Homo sapiens: one gene and its partner. The protein of the gene in region 2 interacts with the protein of the main gene of each other region in a pairwise test. Each region holds a gene or a part of one and is shown on either strand. Other genes may lie near its edges.

The links.
Region 1: the proteins of TNFRSF21 (region 2) and CLIP3 interact in a two-hybrid assay, tested with the Homo sapiens proteins (one study listed by BioGRID).

The regions. Positions count from the first base shown.
Region 1 is NC_000019.10:36,022,608-36,029,881, forward strand, and holds part of CLIP3 (CAP-Gly domain-containing linker protein 3), read right to left. Parts: intron 4,665-7,274; coding exon 4,525-4,664; intron 4,439-4,524; coding exon 4,345-4,438; intron 4,141-4,344; coding exon 3,979-4,140; intron 3,659-3,978; coding exon 3,540-3,658; intron 2,026-3,539; coding exon 1,789-2,025; intron 1-1,788. UniProt on the Homo sapiens protein: Functions as a cytoplasmic linker protein. Involved in TGN-endosome dynamics. May modulate the cellular compartmentalization of AKT kinase family and promote its cell membrane localization, thereby playing a role in glucose transport in adipocytes.
Region 2 is NC_000006.12:47,299,709-47,306,982, forward strand, and holds part of TNFRSF21 (tumor necrosis factor receptor superfamily member 21 precursor), read right to left. Parts: intron 1-7,274.

The DNA of each region.
Region 1 (7,274 bases), on a different chromosome or scaffold from region 2:
AGATCGTGCACAGCAGAATGCTTTCTGGATGGGGCCGGGCGCAGTGGCTTATGCCTGTAATCCCAGCACTTTGGGAGCCAAGGCGGGCGAATCGCTTGAGGGCAGGAGTTTGAGACCAGCCTGGCCAATATGGTGAAACCCGTTGCTACTAAAAATAAAAATAAAAGGCCAGGCGCGGTGGCTCACGCCTGTAATCCCAGCACTTTGGGAGGCTGAGGCGGGCGGATCACGAGGTCAGGAGATCAAGACCATCCTGGCTAACACAGTGACACCCTCTCTCTACTAAAAATACAAATAATTAGCCAGGCATGGTGGTGGGCACCTGTAGTCCCAGCTACTCGGGAGGCTGAGGCAGGAGAATGGCATGAACCCAGGAGGCAGAGCTTGCAGTGAGCTGAGATCGCGCCACCGCACTCCAGCCTAGGCGACAGAGCAAGACTCCATCTCAAAATAATAATAATAATAATCATAATAATAAAAATAAACCCAGGCTTGTTGGCACACACTTGTAATCCCAGCTACGTGGGAGGCTAAGACATGAGAATAGCTTGAATCTGGGAGGTGGAGGTTGCTGTGAGCCAAGATCGTGCCACTGCACTCTGGCCTGGGTGACAGCAAGACCCTGTCTCAAAAACACAAAAACAAAATTCAAACTCCTTCCAGTAGCCTACAGGTCTGCTGTGACCCAGCCTTGCTGACCTCTCCACCTCACCGCCCTTCCCATAACTCCCCTCGTCAACACTGCCCCTTCCTGCCTCTGGGTCTCCATACCTACTGCATCCTCTGCTTCCTTATCTTTGCAAAGGAAGTTCTTTCCTATCTCAGTTTGGACATCACCTCCTCAGAGAAGCCTTCTCAGAACACCCCAGCTAAAACCACTCCAGCATTCAGCCAGGGACAATTTACTAAATCCAAACATGTAATGGTGTTGACAGCCCTTGTTGCTACCAGAAATTACCTTTTTTTTTTTTTTTCAATAGAGGCAGGATCTCACTATGTTGCCCAGGCTGGTCTCTAACAACTCCTGACCTCAAGTGATCCTCCCACCTCGGCCTCCCAAAATGCCGGGATTAGAGGTGTGAACTACCGTGCCCAGCCCAGAAATCATCTCAACCATAGGTTTACTTTCTTGACTGTCTCCCCTTCATTACAAGTGGAGCCCCATGACAGCAGGGCGGGGGCAGACACAGCCCTCCCTCCCTAAGGACAGACTGGGTCCCGTATGGAGCCCAAGGGACACCGGGAAATGAGTGAAATTGGAGTCCCTGGATAAATGAAGATTCTCTCTGCCCTCTCAGCTGTGATACCCGCTCCCCCAAGCTGAGACTCCTTTCTCCCTTTCTTTCCCTGGCTTGCTCCTCCACATCTGCAATTTGGGTACATTCCCCATCACACCCCAATCACTCTGGCCTGGACTTGCCTAGCCAGACTTGTCTCTGAGAGCAGAGGGGCCTGATCGAGGACCACAAGACCCGGGGGGAGCCACAGGTGCACAGAGCTGCGCAGATCACTCTGCTCACCCCTCCCCATGGCAGCCATGACCACTCTCGGCCGTCACTGTCAGATGACGGGTTGTTTCCCACCCTGGATGGAGAGCTCAGCACAGGGTGAGGCTCAAAGGAGACACCCACGGAACAACTGAGATAAAATCAAGTACTGGGTGGATAGTTAGGGCGGCAAGTAGACAAAGGGCAGGGACTGCACTCTGCCCGAGGACGCAGCTCCAAGGGATTAAGGGGCTGAGTCCCACCCCCACCCACCATGCAAACACACATCCCAGCCCCTGACCTTCTGGCCATCCAGCAGCACGCGGTCTCCCAGGCGCAAGCCCAGTGCGCTAAGCATGAGATTGCCTGGGACGTTGTCATAGTTGGGTAGCGTGACCTTGGGGAGGGCGCAAGATAGTGGCACTGCCTCTTCCAGAAGCGTCCGCAGCTCCTTGGCCACCAGTGCCGCCTCTGCCTTGTCCAGGGACATGTCCATAGGATCTGGGACCACCTCCGCCGGCACCTGTCCTTTTCGATTCTGGGGGCCAATGGGAAAAGAAGGCAGGGACTCAGTGGCACAGGTCACACCCCCATGGAGGCCCTGCCCCTAGAGACCACCAGTCTGGGTGATGCAGGGGTAAGACTAGGTCATATCCTGGGCCAACCTGGGAATAAGAAGGGTCAGGGCAAGGCGGGGTAAGGTGGCTCACGCCTGTAATCCCAGTACGTTGTGAGGCCGAGGCAGGCAGATGCTTGAGGTCAGGAGTTCAAGACCAGCCTGGCCAACATGGTGAAACCTCGTCTGTACTAAAAATACAAAAATTAGCCGGGTGTGGTGGCGTGTGCCTGTAATCCCAGCTACTCGGGAGGCTGAGGCAGGAGAATCGCTTGAATCCGGGAAGCAGAGGTTGCAGTGAGCCAAGATCATGCTACTGCACTCCAGCCTGGGTGACAGAGCGAGACTCCGTCTCAAAAAAAAAAAAAAAGAAGGGGCAGGGCAGAAAGGTGCAGACCACATCCCCAGGGAAACCCACCCCTGAGACCCAGGGCTGGGGGTGTGTCAAGTAATTGAGGGTGGGCCTGGGGGTGTAGGCAGTAGGGATGAGGGCCACACTTCAGTGCTGTAGGTCACGCCCTCAGGGAGGCAATCTCTGGAGACCCCAAGCCTGTAATGAGGACATGTGGGAGATGAACATTGAGAATGGGCTCCTGTGGGCTGGGTGCAGTGGCTTATGCTTATAATCCTAGCAATTTGTGAGGCCGAGGTGGGCAGATCACCTGAGGTCAGGAGCTCGAGACCAGCCTGGCCAACATGGTGAAACTCCATCTCTACTAAAAATACAAAAATTAGCCGGGTGTGGTGGCGCATGCCTATAATTCTACCTACTCGGGAGGCTGAGGCAGGAGAATCGTTTGAACCTGGTAGGCAGAGGTTGCAGTGAGCCGAGATTGCACCACTGCACTCCAGCCTGGATGACAGAGCCAGTCTCTGTCTCAAAAAAAAAAAAAAAAAATTAGAGAGAGTGAGAGTGGGCTCCTGTGGTATAGAGTCAGGAGTCAAACTCTGGGCCAGTGGAAAATGGGGAGAGGCAGGGTCTCAGGGGCACAGGCCATGTTACCCCAACATACATGTGCCTGGACGGCTGCAGGGTAATTAGCATTGTGGATGGAGCCTGGTAATGCATAGGTCAGAGGTCAAAGATCATATTGAGGGCTTAGGAGAGGACCAACCCTCTCATTCACAGAAGGCCTAGCCCAACTTTCCTCATGACCTTGAAATGCTGTTATGCACTGCCATGGGATAGGCTGGATGACCCTGGGCAGATCCCTTAATCTCTGCCTCAGTTTCCCCATTGTAAAACAAGGCTTATAATAGACTTCACCTGACATGTAATGAACACTAGGCATATTTCAGCTGTTATTGCATTTGCTGAATGTACAGACGGCATTTGTAGTATTTGGGGAGTCACGGGAAACGCAGAGACCTGCTGGAGGGAAGTGGGGGAGGAAGGGAGCAGGAGGGTAACGGGTTCTGGGCAAGGGTGGCAGTACCCTCAGCGCAGGGTTGGCGCCGTGCTCCAGCAAACATTTGGCGGCGCCCAGGCACAGGCTGGAAGCAGCGATGTGCAGGGCTGAGCCGTGGTTGAAGTCACTGCACGTGGAGTTCACCACTGGAAGTGGGCAAGAGGAGGGGTTCCGGGTGAGCGCCTGTGGGACCCCAGCCCTCCTCCCACCTCGGGGCTCATCTCTTAACTTGCAGGTCCCAGAGCCTCCGACGCAGAGCCCCGCCCCCACCTCGGAGCCCCCCTCTCCCTTGGCAGCCCCGACCCTCCCTAGAGTGGTAGTCCCTGAGCCCCCTCTCCCACGCCTCCAACCTCCCGCTATCTCCTCAGATCACCGTCCTCCTTCCCCTCGCAGCCTGGCCTCACCTGGGTCTCCGCGTCCCTCACCCAGGTCCTTGCCCCCTCCCAGCCAGGGCTCTCCTCCTCACCTCGCGGCCTCGCACCCTTCAGCAGCACACGCACGAGGTCGGGCACATCAAAATAGGCCGCGTAGTGAAGCGCGTTCATGTTGGTCCAGCGGCTGCGCAGCGTCACATCTGCGCCCAGCGCCAGCAGCTGCTGCGAGAGGCGCACGGCTGCCGCGGGGTCCCCTGCGCGATAGGCCGGGTCAGCTTGGAACCCCCATTCCAGAGCATGGGCCCAGTGCACGGGGAGGACCCTGGGCTTCAGGGACTATACTTTGGGATCCGAAGCTTCGGGTTCCAGATGGGGCCTGAGTTCTGGGTGGTTTTCAGCGTGTTGGGTCTGGGGGCCTAGGCTTTGGGGCTTATGACTTGGGGGTAGGGGGCCCTCACCGACTCCGTGGGCCCCAGCTTTGCACGCATAGTGGAGCAGTGTCATGTCGGTCAGCCCGTCACGATCGTTCACATGGCAGCCTCGGCGCAGAATCTGTGAGTACCAGGGGAGCAGGGAGGGTCACCCACACATGTGGGGAACCGCATCCCCTCTCCCCCTGGTTTCCCCAGTGTTCTCACCTCATTGCCGATGACGTCTATCTTGTGCTGGACTTGGGGCACCCACTGGCGCACAATGGCAAACAGCTCGGGGATGGTGGTCTGAGGGTCAAACAGGATCTCCTGGCACGCCGGGTCATTGGGATCGAAGAAGGTGAAAGCTGGGGTGGCAAGAGGTCCAAGGTCACCCCACGCAACTGACCCCCTCCTTCCAGCCTCAGTAGGGGAGCTGTAGGTCTTTGCCTTTTAGAGCCTCTAATGCAGGGTCTCAAGCTGGTGGCACATGGGCCACAGTCAACCCACAGGCATTTTCTGTGTGGCCAGCATGAGGTTTCAAACTCAGGTGGGTTCACATAAAAATCTCGATGCCCAGTGTGTCTTGAAAAGTTGGAAGATCAGGCAATTCCCATATAGCAGCAAACTCCACCCCCTGAAACAAAAGCCTGACAGAGAGTGCAGTACCTTGGAGTCTGCATGTCCAGGGGGACTGCTACTGACCTCACCCACTGTTGCCCTGTGAGAGTATGAGTGAAGTTTGGCTGAATCTCCAGAGCAAAAATAAATAAAGCCAGAAGTCCTGGTTTTTAATAAAACTCTCTCAATTGTTTCAAATACCATGCAGTCCACATCAAATGTATCCATGACTGGGCACAGTGGTTCACATCTGTAATCCCAATGCGTTGGGAGGCTGAGGCAGGAGGATTGCTTGAGCCCATAAGTTCAAGACCAGCCTGGGCAACATAGCAAGACCCCTGTCTTTACAAAAAGTTTTAAAATTAGCCAGGTGTGGTGGTGCGCATTGGTGCTACTCAAGGAGATTGAGACAGGAGGATTGCTTGAGCCCAGGAGTTCAAGGCTGCAGTGAGCCATGATTGTGCCACTACACGCCAGCCTGGGCAACAGAGCAAGACCCTGACTCTGGAAATATAAAAAATAAAAATAGAGGCTGTGCGCGGTGGCTCACGCCTGTAATCCCAGCACTTTTGGAGGCCGGGGCGGGCGGATCACCTCAGGTCAGGAGTTCGAGACCAGCCTGGTCCAACGTGGTGAAACCCTGACTCTACCAAAAATACAAAAATTAGCCAGGCGTGGTGGTGGGCGCCGGTAATCCCAGCTGCTCGGGAGGCTGAGGCAGGAGAATCACTTGAACTCAGGAGGCAAAGGCTGCAGTGAGCTGAGATGGCGCCGCTGCACTCCAGCCTGGGTGACAGAGAGTGAGACTCCATCTCAAAAAAAGTAAATAAATAAATAAAAATGAAAATAAAATAAAATGTATCCATGAGCAGGAATCAACCTGTGCCCAGCCAGGGTGGTGCCTAGAGGCACTTCTGTCTCTTCCCACTCGACTCTAAGGAGTACTGCTCTCTGTGACGTCAGCACCCAGCACAGGGCCCTGGCACGTGGCAGGAACTCAGTGCGTGGTGAATGAACGACTACATGAATGATCAGATTATACACAGCCCAGGGAAGTGCCACATAGAAGGTGTCTCCAGGAATCAGCCGGCATGCTCCTTTTAGAACTGCAGTCACATCATAGCCCTTCTTGGCTTAGAACCCTCCTCCAGCTCCCAACCCATCCAGAGTACAGACCAAAGTCTTCCCCACGGCCCTCAGGGCTCTGCACATCCAGCCCCTCAGTTCTCAGCCCTCTCCCCTCACTTATTCCCCTTCCCTCATTTCCCACACTGGGCTCCCTCTGTCCCTCCCACGTGCCAAGCAAATTCTTGTCTCAGGGTCTTGGCACTTGCTGTTCTTCTCACTCAGGATAGACTTCCCACACATCTTCACAAAGCTTTATAAATCTTTGCTCAAATGTCATCTCCTCAGAGAGGCCTTCCCAAACCACACTGTCTAAATCGGCACCCGCCCTTCTCCATCTCCTACTCTTTTTTTTTTTTTTTTTTTTTTTTTTTTTAGAGATAGGGTCTTGGCTGGGCATGGTGGCTCACGCCTGGAATCCCAGCACTTTGGGAGGCCAAGGCTGGCAGATCATGAGGTCAGCAGTTCGAGACCAGCCTGACCAACATGGTGAAACTCCATCTCTACTAAAAATACAAAAATTAACTGGGCGTGGTGGTGAGTGCCTGTAATCCCAGCTACTCAGGAGGCTGAGGCAGGAGAATCGCTTGAACTCGGAAGGCAGAGGTTGCAGTGGGCCAAGATTGCACCATTGCACTCCAGCCTGGAGTCCGTCTCAAAAAAAAAAAAAAAAATAGGGTCTGTTGGAATGCAATAGTATGATCATAGCTCACTACAGCCTTGAACTCCTGGGTTCAAGTGATCCTCCTGCTTCAGCCTCCCTGGTAGCTAGGACTACAGTATACATCACCATGCCCAGCAATTTTTTTTTTTTTTGTAGTGACAACGTTTTGCTATGTTGCCCAGGCTGGTCTCGAACTCCTGGGCTCAAGTGATCCTCCCACTTTGGCTTCCCAAAGCACTGAAATTACAGGTGTGAGCCACCATGCCCAGCCCTTTATTTATTTATTTATTTTTATCATAGCTCATATCACTACTTGACATGTTTACTCCTCTTTCTCCCTCCTTCATTTCCTCTCTTCTTCCCTCACTAGGATCTAAATGCTATGATTCTATTCTGCCTCATTCACTCCTTTATCCCCAAGGCCAGGCACAGCACATGGCACACAGTAGGTGCTCAGTCAATCTCTGTTGAATTAATGTACAAATTTAACAGATACATGATTTCCTCTTGGAGTCCACCTTAGCCTTCTCCCTGTCCTCGACCACATTTCCAGATTTCTTCACATTCT
Region 2 (7,274 bases):
AATTCAAATTTGCACCCAAGGACCCTGACATATCTATATTAAAGCAGCATAAATAAATTAAAATTATAAACTCCAATATTGGCAGGCTTGTGGGCTAGAAAGCACATTTATAGGTGGCTGGTGGCATTCTAAATTAATTCAGTTCTTCTGGACTACAGTCTGGCAAATTCAGTTCTTCTGGACTACAATCTGGCAATGTGCAGCAAAAGCCATAAAACTGTTCATTTATTTCCTTTGACCCAGCAATTCCACTTTGAGGAACACACCTTGGGGAAACAACCAAAAAGGAAAAAGAGCAATTGGTTTATACAGAGACAACTTCATTAGTGCTGCTTGCAGTGGAAGACCAAAGAGACAGCAAGCCAAGCATCCAACAACAATAGAATGGCTCAACACAGTGCCGACTGGAGGGGATAGAGCTATTAAAAAGTGGCAGCCATAAAGGCTTGAACTGACGTGAATCACAGGCACCTCAAAATTACTCAACACGCATCCAAACTTAAGGCCTCTCAGTTTCACCCACTGCTCCCCAAGCCTTCCCTTTCAAAGTAATCAGACCACCATAGACTGCTCAATGTGGGAACCTAGGAATCAACCTTGATCACTGCTTTCAATATCACCTGCTCCTTCCTATCTCGCCATCAGCAAATCTCTCCAAAATTTCTATCTAGTAATCCCCATCTTCATTGTCACTGCTCTAGCACCATCATCTCTGCCCTGAATTACTGTAAAATGTGCTAACTGGCCTCCAGCTTCTATGCTCCCCTTCTCTAATCCATTCTCCACAGAGCTGCCAGTGAGTTTTTATTTTTTTTAATTGCATTCAAGTCATAGTATTACCCTGCTTCCCACTGCACTCTGAGTGATGTCCTGATCCCTTAAAGGATCCTGTATGATATGGCCCCTGCCTGCCTTTTCAAGCTCGATCCGTTGTCCCCATTCACTGAGCAGCAACCACCGTAATCTTTCTATTCTCTGAACATGTAGGCTGTTTCCTCCCTCTGGGCCATCCCACATACTGTTCCTTCCTCCTGGCATACTCTTCCTTCTGTTCTTTAAAAGGCTGGTTCTCATTAAGCATCACCCCTTTTACGACGTCCAAGAAGGAAAGCCCATGAATAGTTTTTCATATCATATACCCAAAGTCTAGCAATGCCTGACATTTAATAGATGCCCCATAAATTTTATTAAACGGATAAAATATAAATATATCTCTGTAAGATAACAGAAAATAGCTGCACTAAGAAAAGCAGAACACAAGCAGGTACATACACATTAGTTTTAACTATACATAAATACTATAAACAAAGGGAATTGAATTGAAATGACACATAAAGAGAATTCTACACCCACTAGGTTCTTCTAGTCTGACAACTTACATAAGTTTAAATTGTTCTTTCTTAATAACTCATCTATCCTTCAGTTGTTGTTCAAAGTACTGAGATGTAATGCTAGCTCCAACTACCCTCTAACTTGACTAGAATGAATGAACAGTTAGTTTAAATCAAGATCCTTCTGAAACTCATTAATCATTTATTCCTTAACTGTTATGTGTCAGGACATTGAGCCAGAAACACAATGATGAAGAGCATATTGTCTTTGAGAAGCTGAAAAACAATATTAGCCCTGAGCTTTTCAAATGAGGAAACACACACAAACCTTGTCTATTTTGTTATTTTTCCTTGACCAGGTCTGCAAGGTTTAAACCCAAGAGGAGAGAGGAGTCATGGACTTCTACACATAAAAGAATAGCAAAGATTGAATCATGATATAGTTAGGATGTATGTCCTCTCCAAATCTCATGCTGACATGTGATCCACAATGTTGGAGGTGGAGTCTTACGGGAGGTGTTTGGGTCATGAGGTGGATCTGTCATGAACGGCTTGGCATTGTCCCATTGGTGATAACTGAGTTCTCTGTTAATTCCTACCAGAGCTGGTTGCTTAAAGAGCCTAGCACTTCCTTCCCTCTCTCTTGCTCCCTCTCTCACCATGTGACACACCAGCCGCCCTTCCGTTCTGCCATGACTAAAAGCTTCCTGAGGCCTTACTAGAAGCCAAACAGATGCTAAATCCATGCTTCTTGTACAGCCTGCAGAACCATGAGTGAAATAAACCTCTTTTCTTTATAAATGACCCAGTCTTGGGTATTCCTTTATAGCATCGCAAAACGGATTAACAAAAATATCCAGCTAAATTATTCTGGGGACCTGTTACCATTTGCCTTGGAATCTCTTTCTTCCTTCCCAACACCCCCACCTCTCCTAATCCTGGGCAAGCTGACCTGGCCGTGTATAGGATGAAATCAAACAATGGTCTTGTCCCAAAGGTTATTTGGGAGACCAGAATTCCAACCTGTTTTCCAGGACAAATGATTAAATAATTTCCTCTCACCCTTTGCCTTTTCCTAGTTTACTCAGTCTCTACAACCTACGAAGCGATGTTTAAAAGCTTACTTAAGCGAGTGCTACCAGTCAGTATGATAAACCACACACAAACACATGACCTCTGACACCCCTCAAATCACGGAGTTAAACCAGTTTCTAAGAGACCTGAAATGAAAAGTGAAAAAAGGAAATACTAACAACAGATGGTACAAGCCCGTGCACTTACCCTATACAAATAACTAGGCTGACAGCAAAGAAAACCCTAAAAGGTCCTCAAGTTCTCAGGATAAGTGAGTTGAAACTACATTGCTAAGCAGAACCCATGTCACACCGTTATTCACTAAACAAATATTTTTCAAAATGACCCAAGTAGCAGGAAAGCAAAGGATCCATTCCCTATTTATAACATTTCAATTTGCAGGAGTATCTTTCCATCTTAGCGATGGCACCCTTGCCCGTCAGAGTCACACCATAGGAAAATGCTTACCAATGACTGCACACCCTTCCCTTTCAATCCACACACAGGTTGCTCTCAGTTTATAACCAGCAGTTTTAGCTAAACTTCCAAGCACCATCGTGGAGCAGAACTGCTCATTAAATTTCTGGAAAGAGAATGTTCAACTCTTGGGTAAAGTCATTCTCTTTACAGAAAACAAAATTCTGGTAAATTAAGGTGACCTCTCTCCTACCAACAACTTGCAGAAAAAGCAGTGTGCACAAAGCCACACTGACCTAGATTTAAACCCTCTCTCCAGCAGTTGCCAACTGCATGACCATAAGATTTCTCAAACTCCATTCCCTTATCTGTAAAATGGGGCTAATGCTACTACCTCAAAGACTTGTCACATGTACTGAGATCATTTGCAGAAGGTATTCAACACAATGTCAAAGATAAGTACTCAATAAATAAGAGGCAGTGATAGCAATATCAATGATTAATATTAACACCCACTTGCTTATTCCTCCCCTCTGGGCTTTCAGAGCTGAAGCCCTATTGAATCCACAGCTGCTCTCATTTGATTCCTGGACTCATGGACTCACTCCTCTCCACTCTCCTAAATCCATTAAGCTCATGTTCCTTTTCCCAAAACAGATAGATTTGCAAGGGCACCAAGCAACAGAGCCACACAGCAGTACTGACAGGAGACGAACAAATAGAAAAGTATATAAAGATTAGATAATGAGCCTTGCTATGACTTAGCTTACTAAGTGCCCCCCTTAGTTTTCTTGTTTTTATTTTTGTGTAGCACAAAGTCTTAGGCATAATTTTTAAATATGAAGCCACAGGGCAATGTTCTGATCCCCACCCACACCCTGCTCAGTCCCACACCTGCCTGAGGTCTCTCTGAGCGCAACTTTCCCACCACTGCACACATCTGTCATCTCCAAAGCCAGGATACTGACAAGAAAATCTTCTGGTGGCCTTTAGCACCTCTCAAGAACAGTGAGATCACTACTGCTCACTGATCTCACTGAGATCACTATTGCTTACTATTGCTTTGAGTCAACAGCCTAAGTATCAGTGAACCCCACCTCTGTATAGCCCTCAGTCCTGCCTGTACTCACTGATATCTGCCAGGTTCCTCCTGGGTTATAACCTCTACCCAAGCTCCTCTCCTCTTGGATTCAGGCTAGAAATGAAGGTGGTAAGAAAGCTGGGTGGCAGCATGCAAGCCAATTTAGGATTCCCATTTTATTTTTTGGTATTTGACAAACACAAACACTGGGGCAAGGCCAGTATTTATTCATGATCTCGCCCCTATCCTAAATAATCAAAGCTCAGCAGCTGTTGCTGCTACAGCCACAAGGCCCAGCCTTCTGCTAATGCTAAATGAGGATCCAACTTTGGGAACCAAATTGATTCCTATTATGGCTCCCATTGTCATTCTGTCAAACAGACATATCTTTGCCTAATGGTCCACACTGAGTCAGCTCCAAGTGATCACTGGACACATGCCCAAAGCTCTGAGATAACCTGGGCTCTTCTTGTCACAGAAGAGAAGCACCTGAGTTTGCCAAGAAGTTGCTGGTGACCTGGCATCACCGGAATTTGCCAGGCCTGCTTGGGGAAAGAAAGCCAACAGAATATTAGTGCTTTCTGGAAAATAAGCACAAGGAAAAGTCACTCAATTCATACCAGCCCCTGAATAGTAATGATCTGATAATGCACCGGATCATTTCGTGTCACCAAAAAAAAACCAAAAAAAAAAAAAAGATGTTTATTTAAGGCAATTAGAGTTTACATGCTTTATGAAGGACCAGCTGAACACAAAATTAATTTGCAAACTGTCTATGCAGCCTCCAAAGAGGCTTCACCTCTCATCTTCGTGGATATAGTTGCCTGCAAAGTTAAAGTGTGATGTCTCCACATTCTGGTCTACAATGAAGAAAGGACAAAGACCACCTGCCAGAGCCAGCCCAGAAGCTCCCACCTATTTGTTCTGACCCAATAATAGCATACCTGGAGAAAAGGACTGTCTTCAAACTGCCCCAGAATATACAGCATTAACTGTGCTTACTATATCCTGCTTGATAGACTTTGTCTACATTTAGCCACACTAAAATATGTCATGCAGGAATTTGGTGGATATATGCCTTTTCAAGCCTCCCTTTTTTCCCTTCCCAACTTAAGGTAGTCCTTAAATCCCATTTACGAGGAATTTTTTTTATTGCTGATTTGATTTACTTGTGTAGTTTATTTACACTAGAGGTGTGTTTGTTTTGTACTGGACTTGGGGAAGATTCAAACATATGCCTTCAGAAACAGTTCAGATGACAGAGCTCAATTCCATTATACACATTTTGACTGTAATGATAACTCATGGGGTCGGTCAGGACTCCTGCATTCCAGCACAGGTTCTGCGCTCCCCATTCCTCTGATTAGAAGTTGCTTTCTCTACTGAGGCTAACGTATGTCATTCTCAGATTTGAAAGTCTTTTTTTTCTCTTATTCTCAGACTAAGAGCCAAAGTTACTTCAGGTATTTTAAAGATTTTAACATCAATCATATTTTGTGTATTAAGGTAAGTATACTACATTCATCCAGTGATTCCACATGAGCGAGTAAAACCCAACCAGCACTGGTGATGGCCATGCTCATTTTATATACCATACGAATTGTACCTTCATGGCAAGATCCAAATCCCAATTCATCCCTGGGTTCCCACTGCCCAGAATAGTGCCTCACTTAGAAAGGGTGCTCGATGCAGTTTCATTTGTAAACATGAAAAAGCAGTCACTTCCCCAGTAGAGTATTTTTTTTTCTCTCAACCAAAAAATACAGGGTGTTAAATCAGTATTTTTTATGCTCCCTTCCAGCTTTCACATTCTAGGATTGTAGAGCTAAGATATATAGGAGAGAGAAAATCTTTTGGATATAATATCAGCTCTAATTTAAAGTTCTGCTCGAATTTGCCACCAAGTCTTGACATGATTCAGAACTTCAGCCCCCACCAGACCACTCCACACCTGCCCAAACAGCCAAAGTGAATTGCCAATGTACGAGGTAATGTACTTTGATAAATGATGGTCAGGAGGTAGCACTAAGCTACATGTCTAGTTTCAGTAACAGAGAAAAACACTATTACTTGGCACTTTCTAGGCAAACGCACAGCTGGACAGGCTATAACAGCAAATAGCCCTCTATCTGGAATTCATAATGCTTGCAAAAGAGTTTTCTAAAACTTCAGACCTCATATCTTTACCAATTATGGCTCCCTTCTCTTCTGAGGGCCTCACTGCCAAAATCCTACCTATGCAGTTAAAGCGAGCTCCCCGAGGGCAAGGGGCATCTCTGACTAAGTAGTGTCACTCTGGGCAAGCCATTCTAGAGCATTCCTTATCACTGGCACAAACCTAAAGCTCTCATGGATCTTGTCTCTGCCTTACAGAGATATGATATAGCAAGGGTAAGTGTCTCAGGCAGAATAGTACAATTGGTAAAGTCAAGATGGTGGAAGGTAAGCTTAGATTCTGAAGACAAAGCACAATCATGCACACTAGACTTACTGGGTGTCGAGCAACAAGAATGTTTTGTCCACCTGAGCCCCAGACTTTTGAACCCAGCTCTTGTCTTTCAGTGTATGTTTTACTTTCTATTATCATGCAGACACTCATCAGAAATAGAAGTGCAAGCAGCAAGAATACTTCCTTCCAAAGGCATTCCTGTAATTCTCATTCACGTTCTGTAACAAACCAAACCACCTTCTTAACTTTTCCCCAGTGAGCCTTCTCTGTTGTTACATTTCATTATCAAGCAATTTGGACTTGTGAAACACGCAGTGTGGCACAGGGCTAAGGGAGGACATGAGCTGAAGAGCCAGGCAGTCCTGGGTTCTGGCCCCAGCAATATCACGTGCAAGCTGTGTGGCCTGGGACAAACCAATGAAGTTCTGGGAGCTTCCATTTTCTCAACTATAAAAAGGAGACAATATCACCTGCTTCACAAAGATGCTATGAATAAATGAGATACTGTATACAAAGCACCTGGCATGTAGCAATTGCTCTCTCTATACATATACAATTGCTATATACATGTGTATATATTATATCATATTGTGTACCTATATATTTGTATTTTTATAAGCTTATAGTAAGCTATTTTTCATGCAGTTAGCCGGTCATGACAAACAAAAAGTCATAACACAAAAATGATGACAATAAATATTATCACACAAAAAGGGAGATATTTGAAAGAAGAGCATTAAAAGACATAATAAATAGAACATTTTACTGGGATTATTACTTTTTAATCTAACTGTAATACGTGGGCAGGCCACTAACTTGCCCACCTCCCCCAGTAGTGTTCTGAGTACCCTGCCACGTGTACCCAGGCTCCAGTACCTGATGTCCGTTATGTTCACATGGCCAAGGATCCCAATGGGATAAA